Regions from separate parts of the Homo sapiens genome. Here all the other regions are linked to region 1. Evidence: fine-mapped expression QTL. A gene starts in region 1. Each other region holds a variant in brackets. All regions are shown on one strand. Distances are between the middles of the regions.

Evidence for each region. PIP is the estimated chance that this variant, and not a neighbour inherited with it, causes the effect.
Region 2: its variant is the best candidate, but not a certain one, in a credible set for the expression of UBE3C in naive CD4 T cells (Schmiedel 2018, PIP 0.83).
Region 3: its variant is the best candidate, but not a certain one, in a credible set for the expression of UBE3C in whole blood (TOPMed, PIP 0.57).

What each region holds. Positions count from the first base shown.
Region 1 is chr7:157,133,956-157,142,139 of GRCh38, reverse strand. UBE3C (ubiquitin protein ligase E3C) reads right to left here and starts at 3,214. Exons shown (of 23, transcript NM_014671.3): 1 at 2,802-3,214. The coding sequence starts at 2,867. RefSeq lists silencers at 2,583-2,652, 2,703-3,092, 3,373-3,722.
Region 2 is chr7:157,234,840-157,243,023 of GRCh38, reverse strand. All of the region lies in intron 18 of UBE3C (ubiquitin protein ligase E3C), which reads right to left. Among named protein-coding and RNA genes, the nearest start is that of DNAJB6, 98 kb to the left of the region's middle. The variant G/C (reference allele first, on the strand shown) is at 3,472.
Region 3 is chr7:157,264,413-157,272,596 of GRCh38, reverse strand. It overlaps UBE3C (ubiquitin protein ligase E3C), which reads right to left. Exons shown (of 23, transcript NM_014671.3): 23 at 3,227-5,012. The coding sequence ends at 4,842. Among named protein-coding and RNA genes, the nearest start is that of DNAJB6, 68 kb to the left of the region's middle. RefSeq lists enhancers at 1-13, 328-622, 14-782. The variant ATTTAT/T (reference allele first, on the strand shown) is at 3,497.

The DNA.
Region 1 (8,184 bases):
GCTCAACATAATTAGTTGTCAGGAAACAAAATTAAAACCACAAAGAAACTACATCCTCACTAAAATTAAAGGACTTGCAATATCAAGTGTTGGCAAGGATGTGGAAACCTGGATACCTTCAGATGCTGTGGGCGTGCGACACGGGGAAACTGTGGCAGCGGTGTGCACAACAGCTGAACATGCGTATCATCTAGGACCCAGCACAAGAGTATTATGTGCACCAAAAGGCACACACAGCAAAGGTCTGTAAGAAAACAGAATCAGCCACGGTGCGTTCACACAAAGGGCAATGCCGTGCACCGAGGCGGATGGAGTCCACCTCTCAGACAGAAGCCAAGCCAAAGCAGCCGGGCACAAACGACAAGTGGTGAGTGGCTCCATGCCCCTGAAGTTCAACAGGTAACGCTCATCTACAGTAATGGAGGTCAGAAGGACAGTCACCTTTGTGGGGCTACAGACATACATGGCATAATGACCTCTCAGTCTGTCGACAACAGACCACATATACACCGTGGTCCCATAAGATTATAATTTGTATTTTTACTGTATCTACGTTTGGATGCACAGACACTCACCATTGCATGAAGAGCTGCCTACAGTATTCAGCACAGAAACACGCTGTCCAGGTGTGTAGCATAGGGGCAACGGGCTGTACCAAGCAGCTAGGTGTGCAGTGGGCAACACTGGCTATAGGTTTCTGTTAAGTGCACTCTAGGACGGTCCCACAACAACCAACTGGACTAGTGACAGCGTCCCCCTCTTTAAGTCACATATGACTGTAATGAATGGGTGAGAGTGCAGGGGAGCCTCTGGAATGCTGGGGATGGTCTTCCTTTGATGTGAGTGGTGTTCCATCTACAGGAGAGTGTCCATATGCAAAAATCCTTCAAGCTGTACATACAGCTGGCTCCCCACCCAGATTCCTTAACCAGGCCAGGGCACCCATGCCCCAGCTGCTGCCAGTTCCTACTAAGGGCTCTTTACTGCCACTCTCTCCCAGAAGAATGGCCCTCGGCTCAGGGTTAGCAGTGCCACACTCCCACCCTCATCCCGGAGGGGCAGCAGCCTGCAGCCACCAACCCCTCTGCCGCAATTAGGGCCAATTGTAGCATGCTCCTGGTGAGATGGGGTTAACGCTAGCCTCCAGCTGAGACGCCTTTTCCTTCCCTACCCAGCTTCCCTCTCGCCCTTCCTCCTCAATTTCACTTGCACAAGGATCTCTTTAGTGTTTGTGAACCTGACTGTATCTTAAGTTATACCTCAATAAAAAGAGTTTTGTTTTTAAAGGGGTGATTCTTTTACACAGCTCGTGCTATCTTCCCTTGAGATTCTGATCAACAGTTAAGAAATCTCACTCCCTCAGAGCAGAGATGCACTCCTTGGTGAAAAGGGACCAACATCCGTGGCCCGTGGGGTGTTCCTGCCTGCAACAGAGGCCGCGCGGCGCTGTGTAAATGGCATGGAGTCTCAGATGGTCTGCCACTAGCTTGCTGTGTGAATGGGCACTCCTTCAAATGTTCTGCAGCTCACCTTCCGAACTTGTAAGCAAGGCGATTTGGCCCTGAGATTCTCTGAAGTCTCTCCTAACTGTAGAAATCCTTTGATCTCATAAAACATTTTCATTAACGTGGAAGACCCTAAGTGCTACCACGACCACCCTTAACTGCACAGTACTTAGTTCTGGAGCACAAGTGACTTCCAAGCAATCACCATCACACGAACCTCAAAGCTGAAAAATTATCAGCACACTTCTCTCCCAACTCTTTACCCAGGTTCCCTTCTAACCTCAGAAACCACCAAACACAGCCCCACAGCACAATCTTAATAACAGCAGTTCCTCCTTGGCCTGCCAGCACCCACTCTGCGTTATGTGCCTACCTGGTGGTTGTGATATACAGAATATACTGATAGACAAGAAAAACTAGGTGAAGCATTTTAAAGAACATTTCAGAAATGATGGGAAGGGGTGGGAAGGGAGGGGCGGGAACAAGACCACACAGTGTTCAACGACTTAGCGGTTCCAGTGAACCAACTGATGCCCGTCTTCAGGGACAGACAGCTAGAAATTCTAGACTAGAACAGAGGCGTCATGGTTTGCCTACCCTTATCCTAAACAATTACCATGCGAACAACTTAATGTCGATCACAACAGATGTAAGTCCGGAGTCTCTCCACAGTTTCCAGGAGGCTGGTGGCAAATAATTGCCCTCGTCTTGGATTCAAACACGTGGCTATTCATGAGACGTTCTGCCTCTACTTTAGAGATTATCGACATCAGCAAATGCGTGCCGTTCACCTTCTACAACCGAAAACGCCCTTCAGGTGGCATTCGAAAAGCAGCCACTCCCTGATGCCATGCGGGAGCGAGCATGGAAAGCGCATTTCTGAAAGGAAACACCCAGAAAGGGTAAGTTCACCTTGGGTGGCACAAAGCGTGCCAGGGTTCACCGGCCTCCTGCATGGAAGGGAGCCACGGCCAGCGCGCCCGGGTCCCGAAGCGCAGTGGACAGGCAAGGCCCCCACGGGCGCGGCCTCGAGTTCCAGCCAGGGAGGCCCCGAGTCCAGTCCTAAGCCCCAGCCAGAGTCCTGGCCCCAAGTCTCGGCTCCGAGTCCAACCCCGAGTCCCGGCCGGAGCGGCCCCGAGATCCGGCGAGGAAGCCCCGAGTCCCCGCCAGGGAGGCCCCGAATCCAGCCCCAAGTCTCGGCCCCGAGTCCAGCCCCGAGTCCAGCCCCGAGTCCCAGCCCCGAGCCCCGGCCGCGCAGGCCCCGAGCCGAGGGCGCCCCGCCAGCCCGGCCCTCACCTTCCTGCTCGCGCCGCCAAGGGACACCTTGGGCCGCGTCTTGAAGTCGCCTTCGAAGCTGAACATCCTGGCAGCCTAGCCCATGTGCGGGCAGCGCCGCCGCGGAAGCAGCCGGGCGGGCGGGGCACGGGGCGGGCTGGGAGGCTCTCGGCGCCCGCCCGCCCGGCCCGGGGCAGCGAGGACGCGGCGGCCGGGAGGCGACCCGAGCCCGCCCCCGGGCTGTACCCTCCCAGCCCTGCCCTGGGGCGGGAGGGGCGGCAATACTGGAGGGGCGGCCCTGCCTCGCCTGCCCCTCATCCACGCCGGCCACAGCTCGGGCCGCTGCAGGGGCGCCCAGCGGGCAGCAAACCCGGCGCTTGCACCTGGAACTGCCGCCTCGGGAGGGAAGATGGCGGTCAGCCGTCAGTGCGTGCGCGGCCCTGCAGACGTGCGCGGCCCTGCAGACGTGCGCGGCCCTGCAGACGTGCGCGGCCCTGCAGACGTGCGCGGCCCTGCAGACGTGCGCGGCCCTGCAGACGTGCGCGGCCCTGCAGACGTGCGCGCCTCCGCCATTGACGGCACGGCGCTCTTCCCGGCGGTTCCGCTAGCGTGCGCGGCCCCGCAAGGCGCGCTGGAGCCTGGGGAGGACGGCGGTGACGCGGGCTGGGCACGCGGCGGAGTGGGCGGGGCCTGGTGCGTGCTGGGGGAGCGCGGCGAGGGGCGCGGGAGGTGTTGGGTGCGGGGCAGGGTGCGGGAAAGGTGGAGTGCGAGGCACGGGCCGGGATGGGGTGCAGGGCAGGGTGCGGGGTGCAGGGTGGGGTGCAGGGGCCGGCACCCGGAGCGGGCTGGGAGCGGCCAATCTGGTGCCAGACTCGAGTGAGGCGGGAAAGGAGCAGCTAGGCCCAGCCCGTCTGTTTACATCCCACCTGTTCTATGTCTATGACACGCACAGACGGACGTAAATATTTACCATGTACACAGACATGCGCAGATTTGCCTCATACATAGCACACATATGCATCTATAGATACAGCATCAATACATATAAATATGTATCATGTACACATACCTGTGTATGCAAAAATATTTGCTCCTGGACTTACCATGGGGCTTTGTCCTGATAAACCCATCGTAAGATGAAAATATTGTAAGTTGAAAATGTATTTAATGCTACAATAAACCCATCACAAAGTCAAAAAATTGTAAGTTGAGCCATTTTAAGTTGGGGACCACCTATACATAAACATGTGTCTTATATCCACACATACGTATACATAATATCTCATATACATGTGCATATACATATATATCATACACGATTGAAACCAATTTCTAAAAATTGATTTTTGGTTGTATACAAGGTGTGCAACATGATGATTTCATAGAGACATTGTGAAATGACTACCCTCTTTGTGTGTGTGTGGTAAGAGTACATAAAATCTACTCTCTTAGCAAAATTTCAACACACAATACGATATCATCTACAGTCGTCCTGCGGCCGAGCACGGTCGCTCACGCCGGTAATCCCAGCACTCTGGGAGGCCAAGGCGGGCGGATCACCTGAAGTGAAAAGTTCGAGACCAGCCTGGCCAACATGGTGAAACCCCATCTCTAATAAAATACAAAACTTAGGCCGGTGTGGTGGTGCACGCCTGTAGTCCAAGCTACTCTGGAGGCTAAGGCAGGAGAATTGCTTGAACCCAGGAGGCAGAGGTTGCAGTGAGCTGAGATCGTGTTATTGCACTCCGGCCTGGGCGACACAGAGACTCCGTCTCAAAAAAAAAAAAAAAAAAAGAAATACAGTCCTGGCGCCGCCTGTAATCCCAGCACTTTGGGAGGCTAAGGTGGGTGGATCACCTCAGGTCAGGAGTTTGAGACCAGCCTCGCCAACATGGGGAAACCCCGTCTCTACTAAAAGTACAAAAATTAGCTGAGCATGGTGGCATGTTTATGTATAGGTGGTCCCCCACTTAAAGTTCTTAAACTTCTAGCTGCTTGGGAGGCTGAGACAAGAGACTCGCTTGTGTCTGCGAGGCGGAGGTTGCAATGAGCTGAGATCGTGCCACTGTACTCCAGCCTGGGTGACAGAGTGAGACTCTGTCTCAAAAAATAAAAATAAACAGGCCGGGCGCGGTGGCTCACGCCTGTAATCCCAGCACTTTGGGAGGCCGAGGCGGGCAGATCACGAGGTCAGGAGATCGAGACCATCCTGGCTAACACAGTGAAACCCCGTCTCTACTAAAAATACCAAAAAAATTAGCCAGGCATAGTGGCAGGCGCCTGTAGTCCCAGCTACTTGGGAGGCTGAGGCAGGAGAATGGCGTGAACCCGGGAGGCGGAGCTTGCAGTGAGCCGAGATCGCGCCACTCGCGCCACTGCACTCCAGCCTGGGGAACAGAGGGAGACTCCGTCTCAAAATAAATAAATAAAAATAAAAATTAATAACAATAATAATAAACAGTCCTCCTGTGAACATTAGATCTGTGGGCATATTTATGCTACATAACTGCGAGTGTGTTTCCTTTTACATATCTCTCCCCATTTTTCCCAGCCCCAGGAAGCACCACTCTACTCTCTGTTTCTAGATAGGATTTGACTGTTGGATTCCACGTATAAGTGAGCTCATCAGTATCTTTCTCTCTGTCTCGCTTATTTAACTTGGCATCATGTCCTCCAGGTTCACACATGTAGCCAATGACAGGAATTCCTTCTGTATCTTGCTGTTATGAATAATGTTGCAATGAACTGAGAGGAGCTCCAGAAGAAACAATTTCATTTCCTGTAGATATATAACCAGCAGAGGGATCGCTGAGTCATGTGGTAGTTCCAGTTTTGTTTTTTTTGAGGAAACTCCATACTGTTTGCCATAATGGCTGTACCTCCAACGATGGGCAAAGGCTTCTATTTCCCCACACCCTCACCAACACTTGTCTTTTGGATAATAGCCATGCTAATACTGTGAGGTGATATTTCATTGTGGTTTTGTTTTGCATTTCCTTGACGGTTATTGACGATGAGCACCTTTTCATTACCTCTTGGCCGTTTTTATGTCTATTTGGAAAAATTCAGGCCCTTTGCTCGTTTTTTAATTGGGAAAAGCCAAATTTTAAAACTAATATTTGTCATTACTATGTGGAATGCACTGTTTTTTTTAAAAAAAATTCTGTCTTTTTATTTTATTTTATTATTATTTTTTTGAGACAGGGTCTCACTGTATTGCCCAGGCTGGAGTGCTGTGGTACGATCACAGCTAACTGCAGCCTCAACCTCCTGTGCTCAGGCAATTCTCCCAGTTCAGCGTCCCAAATGGCTGGACCAGGTGTGTGCCAGTAGCCTGGCTTTCCCCCCAACCCCCCAGCTTTCCCCCCCCCCCCACTTCTTGTAGAGGTGGGTCTCATTATGTTGCCCAGGCTGGTCTCAGATTCCTGGGCTCAAGAGATCCTCCTGCCTCGGCCTCCCAAAGTGCTGGGATTACAGGCATGAGCCACTGCACCCACTGTCGTCGTCTTCTTTTTAATGCTAGACGCAAAGCACTAAATACGTTTCACAATCCACTAATGGGTCTCAGCTCACAGTTTGAAAAAATCTGCCATATAAATTAAATATAGACAGATAGATGGTTAGAAAGATATACAAACACTCTACTGTTGTCTGAATGTTGGTGTCTCCCCAAAATCATAGTTTGAAACTTAGTCCCCAATGTGATCGTATTAAGAGGAGGGGCCATTAGGAAGTCTTATAGCATGAGGCTCCACCCCCATGAAGGAAATCAGTGCCCAAGGCAGCCTGTTTGTCCCTCCTGCCATGGGGAGACACAGCAAGAAGGCACCATCTATGAAGCAGAGTCCTCAGACGCAGAATGTGGGGTGCCTTGATCTTGGACTTCCCAGATTCCAGAGCTGTGAGAGATATATTTCTGTTGTCCAAAAATTACCCAGGCCAAGGCATTTTGTTATAGCAACCCAAATAGACTAAGGCACCCACACCCAGACACAAATGTGTGTGTGTATATATATGTGAACAAGGTCACAGTTCGTATATATGTATGAACTATCATAGTTCATACATATATTTGAACTGCAACAGTATAGAATGTATTTTTAATCATAAAATGTCCCAATTTTACCATTTTGAAAGCTTACAAATTTTGTCAATTAAAAAAGATATAACCTTTTGTTTTTACCTGTCAGGTTAGCAAAGATTTAAAATTGGTAATATCAATATTTGTGACCTCTGTAAGTCTGCTCTGAAGTCTCAGATTCTTTTTTTTTTTTTTTTTTTTTTGAGACAGAGTCTTGCTCTTGTTGCCCGGGTTGGAGTGCAATGGCGTGATCTTGGCTCACTGCAGCTTCCACCTCTCCACCTCCTGGGTTCAAGCGATTCTCCTGTCTCAGCATCCCGAGTAGCTGGGATTATAGGTGCGCTACCATGCCCGGCTAATTTTTGTGTTTTTAGTAGAGATGGGGTTTCACCACGTTGATCAGGCTGATCTTGGACTCCTGACCTCAGATGATCCGCCCGCCTTGGCCTCCCAAAGTGCTGGGATTACAGGCGTGAGCCACCGCGCCCAGCCTGAAGTCTGAGATTCTGCTTCGAATGAACCCTTCCAATGTCTGGACTAGGAGGAGGAGCAAGAATGCCCATGTGAATCTCACACCAACCTCAGTGTTGCTGGTAACTGGGGGGTGCTGTCCCACATCTGCTGGGCCTCTTTCAAATGTTCTGACCGGCCCACATGGGTAGGGAAGAAGTGCTCCTGACTGCACCTCTGCCCATCTCAACACCGCTGCCTGGCATCTGGTCTGTTTCCACAGTCAGCCCAGGGTGGGTGCTCCTCTGTGCTGAGGTCGGTGCGTCTGCTGGGTGGCCCTGCTCCATGAGCCACTTCTTCCCCTGGTGTCCACTGGAGAACCAGTGATGCCACAGGAAAATCTGTCTTATCAGGATCATTTCAGCATCTTTAACATGATTCCTAATGAAGGATTTTCAAGGATTTTAAAAGTACCTTTTTATAGAAAATTTCAAACTCAACAAGCCAGGGAGACTCATATAATCAATCAGTCTCCTTCAGCTATCGCCCAGCGTCAGTGAGTGCCCACCCCAGGGCCAATCTTATGTGATTAGACTCCCCTCCATCCCTTTGAAGCAAATTCCAGACGTCATTTTGTCAGTAACCCTTAAAAAGTGGAATTTTTGTACAAGATTATGATCTCATTATCACTCTACAAAGATTAATAATTTTCAAGAGTAATTTTCACTATAAAAGATTTTCAGGCTGGGCATGGTGGCTCACACCTGTAATCCCAGCACTTTGGGAGGCCAAGGTGGGTGGATTGCTTCCGCTCAGGAATTCAAGACCAGCCTGGGCCACATAGCAAGACCCCATTCTTAAAAAATAAATACA
Region 2 (8,184 bases), 100 kb before region 1:
GAGAGCAGTGGCACAATCTTGGCTCACCATAATCTCTGCCTTCCGGTTTCAAGCGATTTTCCTACCTCAGCCTCCCAAGTAGCTGGAATTAGAGGCAACCACCACCACGCCCAGCTTATTTTTGTATTTTGAGTAGAGACGGGGTTTCACCATGTTGGTCAGGCTGGTCTAGAACTCCTGACCTCGTGATTCTCCCGCCTTGGCCTCCCAAAGTGCTGGGATTACAGGCTTGAGCCACCAGACCTGGCTCGACCCTTCCTTTTTTTCCTCGACTTCTAGTTCTATGGCTTCCAGGTTCAGGCTCCAAAACACAGAAACCCCTGACCCTGCTCACCAAAATATTTCTAGAAGATAAAAAACATCTTCATGAACAAGGAAGTTCGCTAAAGTAGCAAACCCATATTCCCACTTCCACTGACAAGAAGCAAACATCTGAGCATCTGAGGACAGTTTTACACTCCTGCTTCTGAAAGACAGTAGGAATTTAAAAAAAAAAAAAAAAAAAAAAACAACTCAGGCTCAGTCTCAAGGTACCCCACATAACCAAGAACTATTTTCAACAATTAGAAGAAAACATCTTTCAAGTTTCAAAATTCTACTTTTGCCATATAGGAGAATAAAATATCAGACTAGAAATCTGTCGAGCCACCTCTTGAGAAATTTGAGGACAATGATGCCTTCGATGATAACAGATTTCGTTACCATCAGGTACTATGTTTCCCTAACAACAGCTCATGCTCTAATCACTATACTCCTTCCAGCTTTAGAACGAAAGCATCCATGAACTCCGATTGATACTGACTGCTGCTTTCTCTAACTTCTGTGACACTGGCTCTCTCAGTCACCACGTTACCTACCGCACGATTCCTTTGTAACAGCTTTACTGGGATATCACCCACATAACTTACATTCAAAGGTTTTATTATATTCGTAAAGTTGTATGACCATCGCCACAATCAATTTCTGAAGATTTTCATTATTCTAAAAAGAAACTCCACATCCCTCAGCTGCCACTCCTGGTTCCTCCCAGCCCTGGCGATCACTCACCCACCTTCTGTCTCTAGATTTTCCTGTTTTGGACATTTCATATAAATGGAACCATGTCTTTGGTGATCTCTGCATCTGCTCTCACCGGGCAGAACATTCTCAAGGCACATCCATGTGTGCCATGTGTCAGTGCTTTACCCCTTTTTACGGCCCAGTAATAGTCCACTGTATGGATGAACCGTATTCTGTTTACCCGTTTGTCAGCTGATGGGCCTTTGAGTCATTTCCATCTTTTAGCTATTAGGAATAATGCTGTTGTGAGAATTTGTGTGCAAGTTTTTGGGTAAATATGTTTGCTGGGTCCAAAGGTAATTAACCTTTTGAGGAACTGCTAAACTTTTCCAAAGTGGCTGCACCATTTTATCTTCCCATTGGCAATGCATGAGGACTGATTCCTCCACATCCTCACCAACCCTGCGGTTCCTGGTTTGATTCCCGCCGTACTCGCGGGTGTGCGCGGCAGCCTGTGGCTATGCTTTGCCCTTCCTTGATGACTAGTGATGCTGGCCATCTTTGCACGAACCAATGGCCCATTTGCTTGCTGCCAGTCCCTGGAGAGATGTCCAATTGGATCCTTCGCCCATTTTTATCATGGAGTCCTTCATATATATGCCACAAGTATCTTCTCTTTCAGTGTGTTGTATTTTCAGTTTCTTGATGGTGTCTTTTGAAGCATAAACATTTTTAAGTCCAGTTCATTTTTCCTTTTGTTTTTTGTGCTCCTGGTCTCACAGCTAAGACGGGATTTTTTCCTGACTATGCTGCGACACTCAGCAGTCCATTTTCCCACATGCCCTGCAGCGCTCTGTGATCCTCAGAGCACTCTGCGTGAGTAGCTGTGGTCTCTTTTGCACCCTTGAACCACCGGGCACAGAAGGGAGGTAGGCCCCCTGTGCTCCTTACTGCCACTTCCAGACCATCCTTCCCTTCCCTCCCGCTAAAATCCCTGGCTTTCAATCTCATGCACTGGGCTTGCGCATCCATTACCTCTCCCGGGTTCAGTCACTGCCCCTTAATTCAAGATTTTAGCTCCTGAGAGTCCAACACACTCTGGTGATAATTTTTGGTGACATCTGTAGCACACAGTTGACTGTCATTCTACCATCCTGGCTGTCCCTCAACTCCACCTTAGCTACCAGTTCCTTCAGCTCTGTCCTCCAAGTGGCATTACCGGTAACTAAGCCCCTCTGATCTTAGCTCTAACCACCGCTACACTGACTCCCTGAAGGACCTCGACTCCACAGGTCTCCTCTCCTGTCCAGCTTCCCTTGCCCTCAAATCTCCATTCACGGATTAATTTCCTCTCTAAACAGCCTAGATTCAAAGGCAGGCTCTTGTAACCACTCTGAACTTGCAACCAATTCACCCTTTATTATAGTCACTTGGCAAAAAACCCCACCCCTGGTTAAATCTGACTCTACATCCTAGTCAGACCCACACAGCCGTTTACGGGTGTAGAAAAAGTAACCCACACGGCTGGTCTCACTTCACTTTATGATATTAACGTCAAGTGGGCCCTACACTAACTGGCAATCCTATTGTATTTCCATTGTCCAGTAATTCTCAAATTTCAGCATGCATCAGAGTCACACTTATTAATTGAAGCCTATTCACAGCTTGCTGGCCGGGTGCTATGGCTCACACCCATAATCCCAGCACTTTGGGAGGCTGAGGTGGGCGGATCACTTGAGGCCAGGAATTCGAGACCAGCCTGGCCAACATGGCGAAACCCCATCTCTACAAAAAACACAAAAATTAGCCGGGCGTGGTGGTGGGTGTCCGTAGTCCCAGTTACTTGGGAGGCTGAGGCACGAGAATTGCTTGAACCAGGAGGCAGAGGTTGCAGTGAGCCATGCCAAGAGCAAGACTCTGTCTCAAAAAACCCCAAAAAACCAAAAACCAAAACACACAGCTTGCTGAGCCCTAGCCCTAGAGTTCCAGATTCAGAAGGTCTGGGGTGGAGCCCAAGAATTTGCATTTTTAATAGATCCCCCGGTGATGCAGATGTGGCTGGTCTGGGAACACTGCTCTTCCCATCCTTGCTCTCTGCTGCATCACCCAGAAAGCAGCAACAGTGGGATGCAGTCAGAATGAGCTCCTGCTCCCCAGCTCATGCAGCTGCACCCAGTGTTCCTCTACCTCTTCTTGGACACGCAGCCTGTGGCGCCCCCTGCTTCAGCACCAGACCCCACACCCTCACTTTGCAGGGTGTGGTTCCTCTCTCCCTCAGCAATTCCACTGACTTATTTCCAGCAGCAAATACACATGCTGTTATTTCTCCCATCTTTAGAACACAGCTTTCCTAGCCCCATATCCCTTAAGCGGCTGCTCAAGTTTTCTTGATAACCAGTCCCCCAATTCTTCTCCGATCCTTCCTCTTGTAACTGCTCTGAAGTCTACTGCTGCAGAGTGCCCTAATCACAA[G/C]CCTGTGGTTCCATCCATTTTTACCCAGTGAACACACTTATGGAAAAGCACTTAGTCCACAGCGCAGAAAATGCCTAGCACCTTGGAAGCCCCCTGCACCCCCTTCCAGTGTTACCCTCCCAGGAGCATCAGGATCCTGCCTTCCAAAAACTGCAAGGAGCTTTGCTTGTTTCTGAACTTCCATAAATGAAATCTGACAAAATGTACTTTTGTGTGTCTGGATTCTTCAACTCAATGTTAGGTCTGTGCCGTTCACTCATACCATTTTGAGTAGCTGTAGTCTGTTCATTCAGTAAGTCTTGTGAATATCCTACAATTTATTTATTATCATTATGCTTTCGAAGGACATTTTTGTAGTTTCCAGTTTAGGGGCTATACAGTGTTACCATAAACATTCTTTCACATGTATTCTAATTAATAGGTACACATTTCTCTTGTGATATGATGTGGATATTTTCAGCTTTAATATGATGCTTTAGGAAGATAATCCTGACATTCTTTTCAGCCCATCTGCTGAGGTTTTTGCCTTCACCACGCCACAGAAATCACTTGTCCAGAGTGCTAAATGACATGGCCACTTCTCAGTGCTAAACCTTACTTGGTCTAACAGTACCATCACACAATACCCACCTTTCTCTTCCTTTCAAACACTGTCTTTATTTGGCACCTGAAATCCCACTTCTCTGGTTTTCTCCCTTCCTTTCCAGCTTCATCTCCTGAACTTCTATTAGTCAATTCTCTACTCTCTGGACTCTAAACCTTGGAGAGCCCTGGGGCTCAGTTCTTCATCTCTTCTCTTCTCCAGTGACACCTACACCCTGGGTGATCTAATTCAGGCTAATGACCTTAAGGACCCTGGGAATGCTGATGGCTCAGCCCAGATACTGCCTCTAACTTGAGGCCCCTATCCTCAACTGCCCCTCACTAAGCCTCCATAAGAATGCCTCCCTCTCCACACCTGCTCCTGCCCGCACCTTTCCCAGCTTAGTCAGCATGACCTCCATCCTTCTAGTTCTCATAACAGAACCCAGGTGGTTCCCTTACCTTCTCCTGTCCTCACACATCCCAACATCTCATTCATCAGCAAATCTCCTTGAATATGATGACTTCTTACCAGCACTACCACCGGGACATGGGCAGCAGCATCACTCCACCTGAACGATGTGACACTCCATCCGGTCTCCCAGCTTGAGTGCTTGACCAATGCTAGCTACTTACACCAAAGCCAAGGAGGCCCACGACAACACAGGCCGGATTCTGCTGCCCTCTGCTGGTGACGCCAGGAGTCCCCACTGGCCTGTCTTACTCCAGAGCGTGACCTCCACCACTCTACTTACTGCCGCCTCTCAAAGCTGATTTTAAGTTTAGAAACAATAAAATTAACACCATATACCTTCATTTGGCTTTTATTTCATAAAGTTACATTTGCTAAATCTAAATCTAAATTAAATTGAATATTTAAATGTTTAAAAGGATTTACATGGGCCCTATTTTATTATTATTTTGAGACAGGGTCTCTGTCACCCAGGCTGGAGTGTGGTGGTGCCATCACTGCTCACTGCAGCCTCTACATTTCAGGCTCAAGCAATCCTCCCACCTCAGCCTCCCAAGTAGCTGGGACTACAGACACACACCACCATGCCTGGCTACTTTTTTTTTTTTTTTAGTGGTAGAGACCAGGTCTCCCTATGTATGCCTAGGATGGTCTTGAACTCCTGGGCTTAAGTGTTCTTCCCACCTCGGCCTCCCAAAGTGCTGGGACTACAGGTATGAGCTACTGCACCCAACACTATTTTTTAGATTATTTGTTGTCTTTATTGCACAAATAAGAGCCAAAGATAAACAGCAGACTTTAAGTGGGGCCAGCAAGAGTGTGTGCTTCTAATCTTCATGGTGACAAATTAACATGGCCCAGAAAAAACAGAATGGTCTCAATACCATACTGATCCATTCTTCTCATGAATTTCAGATGTTTAACTATTGCTTGGGCGTGATGAGAAAAATAAAAAGGAAGGAATAACTCAATAGTAAGCAAGACCTACTTAATCCAAGGGCAGAAAGAATTTACCTTGTGGTGCTAAACCTACAGTGAGAAATCTTTTCTTTTTTTTTGAGACGGAGTCTCGCTCTGTCGCCCAGGCTGGAGTGCAGTGGCGCAATCTCGGCTCACTGCAAGCTCCGCCTCCCGGGTTCACGCCATTCTCCTGCCTCAGCCTCCTGAGTAGCTGGGACTACAGGCGCCCGCCACCACGCCCGGCTAATTTTTTGTATTTTTAGTAGAGATGGGGTTTCACCGTGTTAGCCAGGATGGTCTCGATCTCCTGACCTGGTGATCTGCCCACCTCGGCCTCCCAAAGTGTTGGGATTACAGGCATGAGCCACTGCACCCAGCCGAGAAATCTTATTTAGGTGCAGCAATCAACTGAATTCAGGAATACATCTCCCATTTTAACTGTAGAATCTAAACCACTTGTATTTCATGGTTAATTCTGAAGAAATAAACTTACATAGAAAACTGTCTTGCCGGGTGTGCTGGCTCACGCCTGTAATGCCAGCACTTTGGAAGGCTGAGATGGGCAGATCACCTGAGGTCAGGATTTCGAGACCAGCTTGGCCAACATGATGAAACCCCGTCTCTACTAAAAATACAAAAATTAGCCGGGCATGGTGGTGGATACCTGTAATCCCAGCTACTCGGGAGGCTGAGGCAGGAGAATCGCTTGAACCCGGGAGGTGGAGGTTGCAGTGAGCCAAGATCGCACCACTGCACTCCAGCCTGGGCAACAGAGTGAGACTCCATCTCAAAAAAAGAGAAAAAAAAAAGAGTTTAGGGTTCAAAACAAGGTATTATACAAGAGAAGCTCTGCCCCTTTAAGGACTAAGGCAACCAAAATGACTAGTATTCACCTCAATTTAGATGTTTAAAGCCTCAGCAAATTCAGTGAGCATTTTACAAAAGGATGCTAATGATGGAGAAAAAGAAACTTTCCAACTTTTGAAAATCTCAAGATAAACTGTTAAGTGCCAATATTACACTACAGAATACATTAAATGCACACTGAATTCTACCGCGATAAAAAATTATAAACCACGCCAAAGTTATACAATCTAATTGAAATTTTCAAATATATAACCAAGATCATATCAAATAATCTGATTTATAGGCATGCCATCCCAATTAAATCAATATCCTAAAGCAAGAAAAAAAGCCATTTTCAAATAGAATTCAAATATGATAAAGGATTAACCTCAATAAATATTCTGAACTTAATTGGCTTAAATGGACCTAGGTGCTTCTATCTGTAAAAAAAAGTTCAAGATGACATTACCACATCCTTGGGCTGTTTATTTATTCCCTGTCTGCAGCCTGACTTACAGGCGACAAAATGCAATCATGACCCACACCAGAAGCAAGAATCATTTGCTAATGGAACTTTTAATTGAGAAGTGACCAGTGACATGAGGTAATTCTTCCTCTGCAGGATCACTCTTGAAGACCTCTTTGCACTTTATCACAGTAAACAATCACTAACATATGCATTAAAGAAAATTTAAATACATTATGACCCAATAAATATCACAATCAATCAATATACAGTTTTCTTCTCTTGAAGATGTAATGTTCAGGTGCCACACTATCAGCTGCTGTACTATGACACTTACTTAGATCCGAGCAATGGTTAGCACATTAGCACAAAGTTTAACTCTGTAATCAGATGGTCATCAGATATGTTTTGGAAGTTAGTAACCCCTTAGGAATTTCCACACAGAGAGTAATGTAAGGGAAGTCTTAAATATGTGAAACTAAGTTAACTACCATCCTCAAATTACTCTTAGTTTTGTTATTGGTCTAAACTTTATTATTTTAAACAGCCTTAATAAGATATAACTTACATAAACTTCATTTGTGGGAGAAAGGTTTAAAATCACAAATTCTCTTCCCTGGATCTTCTGTAAATATATACATATTCCAAAGTACAGAACTGTACAATGACATCATCTTCAGAATAATTTCAATTATAAGCAATATGTCAATAAACAGAGGAGAAATGAGTTTATCCTCACCAGACTTACATAACTATTAGCTTCTACATTAATCAAGACTGGATGATTTATACATTCAGGAAGAAAAAGTAATATATAATCTTAAGATTTAATTCATGCAGGTAAAATTATTGCTCTATCTTCTGTGACTGTACTGTGTAAAAACCACCAAGTTTAGAGTATTTCAGGTTAGTCTAGCAGAACACTCACCTTTATTTTCACATATATATTAAGTTAGAAGGTTCTTGGGCTCACTTTAACAGAAAGAACTAAGGGATTTCATTGTAAAGATTTTCTTTTCTTTTCTTTTTTTTAATTTGAGACAGAGTTTTGCTCTTGTTGCCAGGCTGGAGTGCAATGGTAAGGCCTTGGCTCACCACAACCTCCGCCTCCAGGTTCAAGCCATTATCCTGCCTCAGCCTCTGGAGTAGCTGGGATTAAAGGCATGCACCACCACGCCCAGCTAATTTTGTATTTTTAGTAGAGACGGGGTTTCTCCATGTTGGTCAGGCTGGTCTCGAGCTCCCGACCTCAGGTGATCCGCCTGCCTAGGCCTCCCAAAGTGCTGGGATTACAGGTGTGATCCACCATGCCTGGCCCATTGTAAAGATTTTCATACAATGAATTATGAAATGTACATCCTCCAGGGGAAGCTGAAACTGAGAAGTA
Region 3 (8,184 bases), 130 kb before region 1:
CGACTGGGCAAAAGCAAACGTAGAGGCTCGAAGGGCTGTGGGCCAGGCCACAGCCGAGCAGTCGGCAGCTGTGCCACAGACCATCCTCCATGGAGCCTGGATGGCACGTACAGCTGGAGGTTCCGGCCCAGGTGCTGCGGGTATCAGGACTCCCTGGAGCACCAGAAATGAACTCCAGGCAAATCAGCTGGAATGCCCTGCAACTCCCAACCTAGAAGTTTTTAACATTGAAAGGATTTTTTGAGACTGTCTAATTGTTTTCCAGAAATCACCTGTGAAGGATTATCCAGGACACTATAAAAAATACAGACTGCTAAGCCCCAACCCCTAGAGACACAATGGCCTTCAGGAAGGGCCGGGAACACTGATCTCATGCACCGCTCGTTTTACTGAGTCAAAGGAAAGGCTTGTTTGCGTCTGCGTGGGCAACAGCCAAGTACAACCAGAACACGTTTCGAAATCCCCACGGGTCTACCTACCACACTTAAATCAACACAGCCAGAATGGGGCTGCCCAAAGAAACAGGCCACGTCCTGACTCCAGGACATGTGTACATACATGGCCTTATTTGGAAAAAGTCTTTGCAGATGTAATTGAGGATCTTGAGATGAAGTCATCCTGGATTACAGGGGTGTCTATAGGAAAAAGGCAGGACACTGGAGACAGGGGGAGAAGACACCAGATACCAGAAGCTGGAGGAGACAAAGGGTTCCTCCCTGAGGCTGTGAGGCCTCCTGATCCCTGGAGGAGAGAAATGCTGCTGCTTTAAGCCACCTGATTTGTGGTAATTTGCTACAGCAGCCACAGGGAGCTGATGACCATGAACACGATACCATTTTAAGAAAGACTACCCCCCTCACACTTGAATGAGCTCTAACAGCTCTGGTCCTGTCAAGTCTGTGGATGCAAGCACGACAGCATCCATTCAGTCATCACCTCAAACTCATCAGTCCATCGGCGCCATCCCATTACCTAGCACGGTGCGTACGTGGAGTGACGCTGGCCAGTTCACATGCGGGTCCTGAGCTGTGAAGGCGTGGAGCACCCATCGTGGAGGCGGACTTCTGTCTGCAATCCTGGCAGTTCAAGGAGACGCATGGACCTTGTGCTATCCACAAATCTAAGAAACATTGCCAGCAATTGAATTCTTTGGGTGACTCAGTATGTGAACACCCTCCACGATAAATTCAAGACTGACACCAGGCTGCTTCCATGACATAAGATCACCTTAATGAGCACAACAGGTGTGCCTTTCTTTATTCTGGATCGTGCAGAAAGAAAAACCCAGTGACTTCTGCCGTATTTGCCTCTCTAGGCAGCCCCAGTTGGCTGGCTATGGTTCCCTCCTGTGACACCCTTCGAGCCTCTATGTTTGCTTTTGCCCACTCCAGGGTCAGGGAAGACGAGGCTGGTGGTGGGAGCTCCTATCTGAACGGTAAAATTGGTGTCAAGAGTCTTCAGCTCAGTATTTTGAACATAAATAAGGCCCTCAGTTATAAGCTAATGACGGACACTGCCTCCTGTCAACATTTAGAAGTGCGCAATCGATGAATCCAAACCACAGCAATCCATCTCAGTAATCAGAACGTGAACCATCCTCTTAAAGCAAAAGTGGGGCCGGGCGCGGTGGCTCACGCCTGTAATCCCAGCTACTCGGGAGGCTGAGGCAGGACGATCGCTTGAACCCGGGAGGCGGAGCTTGCAGTGAGCCCAGATAGTACTACTGCACTCTGGCCAGGGCAAATGAGCGAGACTCTGTCTCAAAAAAAGAAAAATGCACATAAAAAGAGAACAGCATTTAAAGAGATTACCGTTTTCTGCCTACCTCTGCAGAAGAAAAAGTAGTAGTAACGTTGCCTTTATACAGCAATATTTTTATTGTTAAGACCTTGGCCAAAACTATTGTAACCTTGTAGGCTGTTAGGGCAGACTTTTGAAGATGTGATGTTTGCAACCTGTGACACCAACCGCCTAGGGAGACAAATTAAAACGTGGTTTACAGTATGTGAAAGTCAAAAGCCTGTCTACAATGCTCATGGCATCTCCAGAATGCTCCTGTGAAACCCAAGCCTCCAGACTGTCCCTGTTTCACAGATAAATCAGTCGAGGCACAAAGCACTTGGGCTCAAGAACTTACCCTCAGAATTTTCTGGAAGCAGAGACCTTTGTGTAGTCAGTGCCTTTTCCCACCTGGACATGCTGGTCACCAGTCTCTTCAGGTCACCAACTTTGACCACCATCCAAGCACCAGGAAAAGCCCTCTGGGTTGATCCCAGCATGCCACAGTGTAGCACTCCAGCATTCAGCCCGTGTTTGGGAAGTCTAGGTAATTTCTCATTAGAAAAACCTCCAGGTGAACCTGCTGTTCTGTGAGGGATGCACAGGGTGGCTGCGTCACTTCCTAGACTACCCTGCTAGTTGTGATGCTTGCTGACCCGGAGCAGGTGGATCTGAAAGAGCTGAGCATGCCCTGAATTTCTATTTGAGTTACCATATGCCTTTGGCTGTTTATTTCTTTCAAGTATGAGAAAGCTTACGTATTCAATTATTTCAGGTTCACCACTCACCTCCTCAGGAAGTTCCTGGAAGGAGTCATTAACCCCACCACAGCCTTTCCCGTGCTCCCAGTTCCACCACTGGAGGCCTGCATGTCAACGGCAGGGATACATAGAGTGTAGACTGCAGGCTCACGATGGGCAGGGATGCAGTATCTGGTTTCCCACACTCCGCAAAAGCACACACCATCCTGTAAACCACTGCAATCGATAAAGCTGCCTTAACGAGCTCAGGATACCAAAACAAAGATCTCTCTGCAGATAACACCTCATGAGAAGTATCTGCAATAACCCCAAGTCAACATTTAGGTTTGTGTACAAAATTACCAGAAAGCAGAAAGTAGGACAGAACGTAGAAAAGGGCAAACAAAACAAAGAACAAAGAATCTTCCTCCAGAAATTTTTCAAGAACTAATGCCAGACCCAATGGGAGACTCGGGAAGCCAACACCCGTGGCTGGTCGGATAGGAGCACACCGGCCGCCGGCCTGGGAGCCACGCTCGGCCCACCCCTGATGACAGGCATCCTCCCGAGGACCTCTGATTCTCAGTGAGTGTAGGCCATCTTACTATACTCCATTAGCTGGTGACATGCAAACACCTGTGATAAAACTAGTAACATTCAGAAGCTGTGCTAATCACAATGATTTGGGGTAGGACTCCAACACAATCTTGGGAAAAAAAACATTTAATGTAAATGTTTAGCCATTAGAACATACAAATAAATAAATAAGCTCAGAATAGCTGAGAAAAAAACCACAAATAAGTGAATTGTCAATTTCTCTTCAGTCTCAGATATGCTATTTCCAAAATACTAATAAAATATACAAATTAACTAATAAGATATAGAACATTCAACATAAAACAACCTAAAATAAAAAAGACCAACCCTAATTATTTTATTTCTGTATATCAAGACTACAAATAGCATTTAAACGCTTA[ATTTAT/T]TATTCAAATTAAGAAATTATACATTTTGTTTTGATAATGTTCATTGTCTTAAAAGTGTCATTCAGCTTTCCCACTTTAAAAGTATATTGCTAATTATGGTCAATTAACTATGACAGCCCACAGAGCCTCCAGTGACAGTAAAATACGAGACATAGAAGAGATAAATGAGGATTTAGATCCCCTCCCCCCAGCATCAGCAAAGGGTCACTCTGCTCCCACAGCTGACGCTTTGAAACGCTTTCTGTTTGTAGAGACTAAAATCACCCAGCAACAGGTCAGGTCCTGATAAAGTGCCTACTGCAAGAACTACCGACACTCCTCTTCCCTGGATGTGCACCAGGGACTGTCCCGTCTTCGAGTCAGAGCAGCACCAGGAAGCAGAGGGTGCCAAGCATGGCGAGTCACCCCCAAATATCCAGGAAGACAAGTGGGCGCAGCCCAGGGGAAAGGAGGGCGAGCGGATGATGGGAGACCGGCACGGCTAGCATCGGGACAAAGATGCAGCCGCCACTTTGGTTCAAACAACTTTAATGACACCACAGTGTCTGTCCTCCCCCAAGTAACTGGGTATAGTGGGTGACAGATGTTGCAGTAGCTTGGCAGACCCTCCTCCTCCACCTCCCCTGAAAGCTCTCCAGGCACAAAGTGGAGATAGAAATAGGACAATGAATGAAGTCCCCACCTCACATCCACAGACAGTATCTCCAAACCATCATGAGGCAGGCCACGGTATACTGAAAACAAGCATGCTAGTCCCATTTGGGGAAATGGCTTAAAAAGCACAAATAAAATATTACCATCATCATCTCTTTTCCAAACCTAACCACTTTGGGAAAGGCAGCAGAAAAAAAAAATGCCTTCAGTTTTAATAATGAGGCTTGTAAACAATCCAACCACATAAGCAGCAGCGGCCCCATGGCGTCTCAGCCCTCAGACCCTGTATCTCTGCCGCCTGTGCAGCCCTGTCTGAACCCTGGAGTGGCGCTGCCTGCTCAGGAGGGCTCTGATCTCACCAGCAAAGCCAAAGCTTCATCTTTGGTTAATTTCACTGAGATGCCACTAGTGTAAAAACTGTGCTCTTCTTGGCAATATTACTAAAGTAGCCACATGGCACATAACGTGTTATTTTAAGTTATTTGAAAAGCAATGTCCATCTAAATAAGTGACCACACCGTAATAAAAATCATTTAAAAAAGGAAGGGAGGGAGGAATGGCAGAATGAAAGAAGGAGCTTAGGAGAGCCTCAGGCGTGCAGTGTGAGTATCCTCGTGGGTCTGGGGAGGCGCTGCTGACGAAGGAAGCACTGGTTCTCTGTAGGGGTCTGACCCCAGCATCAGCTTCAGCTCAGCTCAAAGCCAGCGGCACATTCAATCGCATAGAGAAGTTTACTTCGCAAAAGTGTCTCGTCATAGAACTCGGGGAGCTTCAGCAGGTTCATGCAGGTGCTGGCTGTGGGGAGCCGCTCAAGGTCGGAGCCTCCGTTGTGAATACAAAATGCGGGATACAACTCCTGAAAAACAGCATGTGTGCAAGATGTCACTGTAACAAGCATGGCATTACATGAGTTTTAATACAAAGTACACAAAATGTGCCTGCTCCAATCAGTAAAGTTACCATTGCAGTCACATTTTCCCGAAACCACATTTGCTTTGTTGTTGTTGTTTGTTTTCTTTGAGATGGAGTCTAGCTCTGTCGCCCAGGCTGGAGGGCAATGGCGCCATCTCAGCTCACTGCAACCTCTGCCTCCCAGGTTCAAGCGATTCTCCTGCCTCAGTCTCCCAAGTAGCTGGGATTACAGGTGCCTGCCACCATGCCTGGCTAATTTTTGGATTTTTCCTAGATAAGGGGTTTCACCACGTTGGCCAGGATGGTCTTGAACTCCTGACTTTGTGATCTGCCCACCTCTGCCTCCCAAAGTGCTGGGATTACAGGCGTGAGCCACCGTGCCTGGCCCACATTTGCTTTTTTAAAAAATTACATTGATGGCTTAGTTCTAACTTACATAAAAGATTATGCACTGTGCTTCAGGCATAAAAAGGGATAAATAACATTCCAGGCCAGGCGCATAGCTCACACCTGTAGTCCCAGCACTTTGGGAGGCCTAGCTGGGGGATGGCTTGAGCTTAGGAGTTCGAGACCAGCCTGGGCAACATAACGAGACCTCATTTCCACTAAAAATAAAAATCAAAACAATTAGCCAGGTGTGGTGGTCTGCCCCTATACTCCCAGCTACTTGGGAGGCTGAGGTGAAAAGATGTCTTGAGCCCAGGAGGTCGAGGTTAGTGAGGTATGATCACACCACTGCACTCCAGCCTGGGCAACACACAGTGAGACCCTGTCTATAAAAATTTTTTAAAAAGGATCAAGATTTATTCTATCTTTCCTGTACAAGCTATTACTCGGGTTAACCAAATCATTGGTGAGAAGAAACAAAGCTGTTTTTAAATAGAAAATTCCAGCTAATAAATTATACAATTATGTAATTAGAACACGGCTGTTTTAGAAGCACATTAAACAATGGATCTAGGCAGTGATAAGTGACCACTAAAATCAAGAGGAATTCTGACGCAGAGATCGATCCCAGCATTGTGGGGAGATGACTCACGAGAAGTGGATCTCCACGATGATTAAGGGAATGGGAAGCATACGACATTACCTATGTGATGTTATTGCCAAAAAAAGAAAAATTCAAATTTAGAATCTGATGAGACCTCTATCAGTTTTCAAGAGATACAAAGAAGCAACCCAGTTACCCTATTATTTTTATTTATTTATTTTTTTGAGACGGAGTCTTGCTCTGTCACCCAGGCTGGAGTGCAGTGGTGCAATCTCGGCTTACTGCAACATCCGCCTCCCGGGTTCACGCCATTCTCCTGCCTCAGCCTCCCGCATAGCTTGGACTACAGGCTCCCGCCACCACGCCCGGCTAATTTTTTGTATTTTTAGTAGAGACGGGGTTTCACCATGTTAGCCAGGATGATCTCGATCTCCTGACCTCGTGATCCACCCGCCTCAGCCTCCCAAAGTGCTGGGATTACAGGCGTGAGCCACCGTGCCCGGCCCCAGTTCCCCTATTCATTAAATTACAAGACGAAATTGAGGGAGGTAGAACATCTATAGACCAAATGCATGATGAAAAGTGGCTTGCTTGTGCCAGAATTTAAATAATTGTTAACAAAAAAGAAAGATGATCAGGGAAATTTGAATATTGTTTTTCAGATGTGTTCATGACGTTCTGGTATTTAAAGGTACAGTGTGAAAATTCTCATCCCTGTATCACAGATACCCAGTTCCCATTCCCACTGGCAACCAACGCTTCAGCGTCTTAAGTGCTCCCAGAGATGAAATGCACGCATGAGAAAATGTTCTCCCTCCTTTAGGTTTAAAATTGAGACGGTGAGCACATTGGACACAGTATTCCGTGCCGTGCTTTTCTCATCTGATAATGGGTCTCGCTCATCTTGCCTATTAATGGTGAGGCTATATGGTGTTCCATGCACACGCGCGGCACGACGTGTTGCTGGGCACTTCTCTCAGCTTTTTACAAAAAATGATGCAATGAATACGTACCTGGTTTTCACAGTTGTGCAAATGTATCTGTAGGCAAAAACCGTGTTAGGGATTGCTCAACGCAGACTTAATGCATGAGACCTATGGGCGTGTCGGTCCTCTGATGGCCACGAAGAACCGGTGACTCCACCTTCCTCGTATACACAAACACCATTAGCTATTTGCCTCACATTTGAGATACGTGATTTATGTGTTCTCTTCCAACAGGAAGACAATAAGGCACAGATCGCCCTCAGTCTGCTCACTGTCGCAGCCTGTGCAGATTTAGTATCTGGCACGGGTTTCAGAGACCTAGCTAGGTCAGCCCTTCCCTGCACACGTGTACACGAAACTCTCTGAGAGGTGGGCCTGGCAGCAGGAGCAGGGGCTTCACCCACATTCACAACTCCTGGGACTGTACTCTAAGAAATAATTAGAGATGCACATGATAATTTATGCACAAGAGGTTCACAGCATCACAACGAAGGAAGAGCTGTAAACAACTAAAAAACAGAAAGTAAACTGGTAAATCACATGATGGGACACTACAAGCCCATTAAAAATATCTCAAAGAATAACATGAGGAAAAATGATCCTGATGTAATGTTGAGTGAAAAAGGTAGCCTAGAAAACTGAACACAAGATACAGCTAAAATTATATTTAAAAATTACGTGACCAGGAGCAGTGGCTCATGACTGTAATCCCAGCATTTTGGGAGGCCACAACGGGTGGATCACCTGAGGTCAGGATTTCTGAGACCAGCCTGACCAACATGGCGAAACCCCATCTCTACTAAAAATAAAAAATTAGCCGGCTGTAGTGGTGCATGCCTGTAATAATTCCAATTACTCGGGAGGCTGAGGCAGGAGGCAGAGGTTGCAGGCTGCAGTGAGACGAGATCACGCATTGCACTCCAGCCTGGGCAATAAGAGTGAAACTCTGTCTTAAAAATATATATGTTTGTGTGTGTGTAACAGGCTGAGCATGTTGGCTCACACCTGTAATACCAGGTGTGTGTGTGTGTGTGTAACAGGCCGAGCATGTTGGCGCACACCTGTAGTACCAGGTGTGTGTGTGTGTGTAACAGGCCGAGCATGTTGGCTCACACCTGTAGTACCAGGTGTGTGTGTGT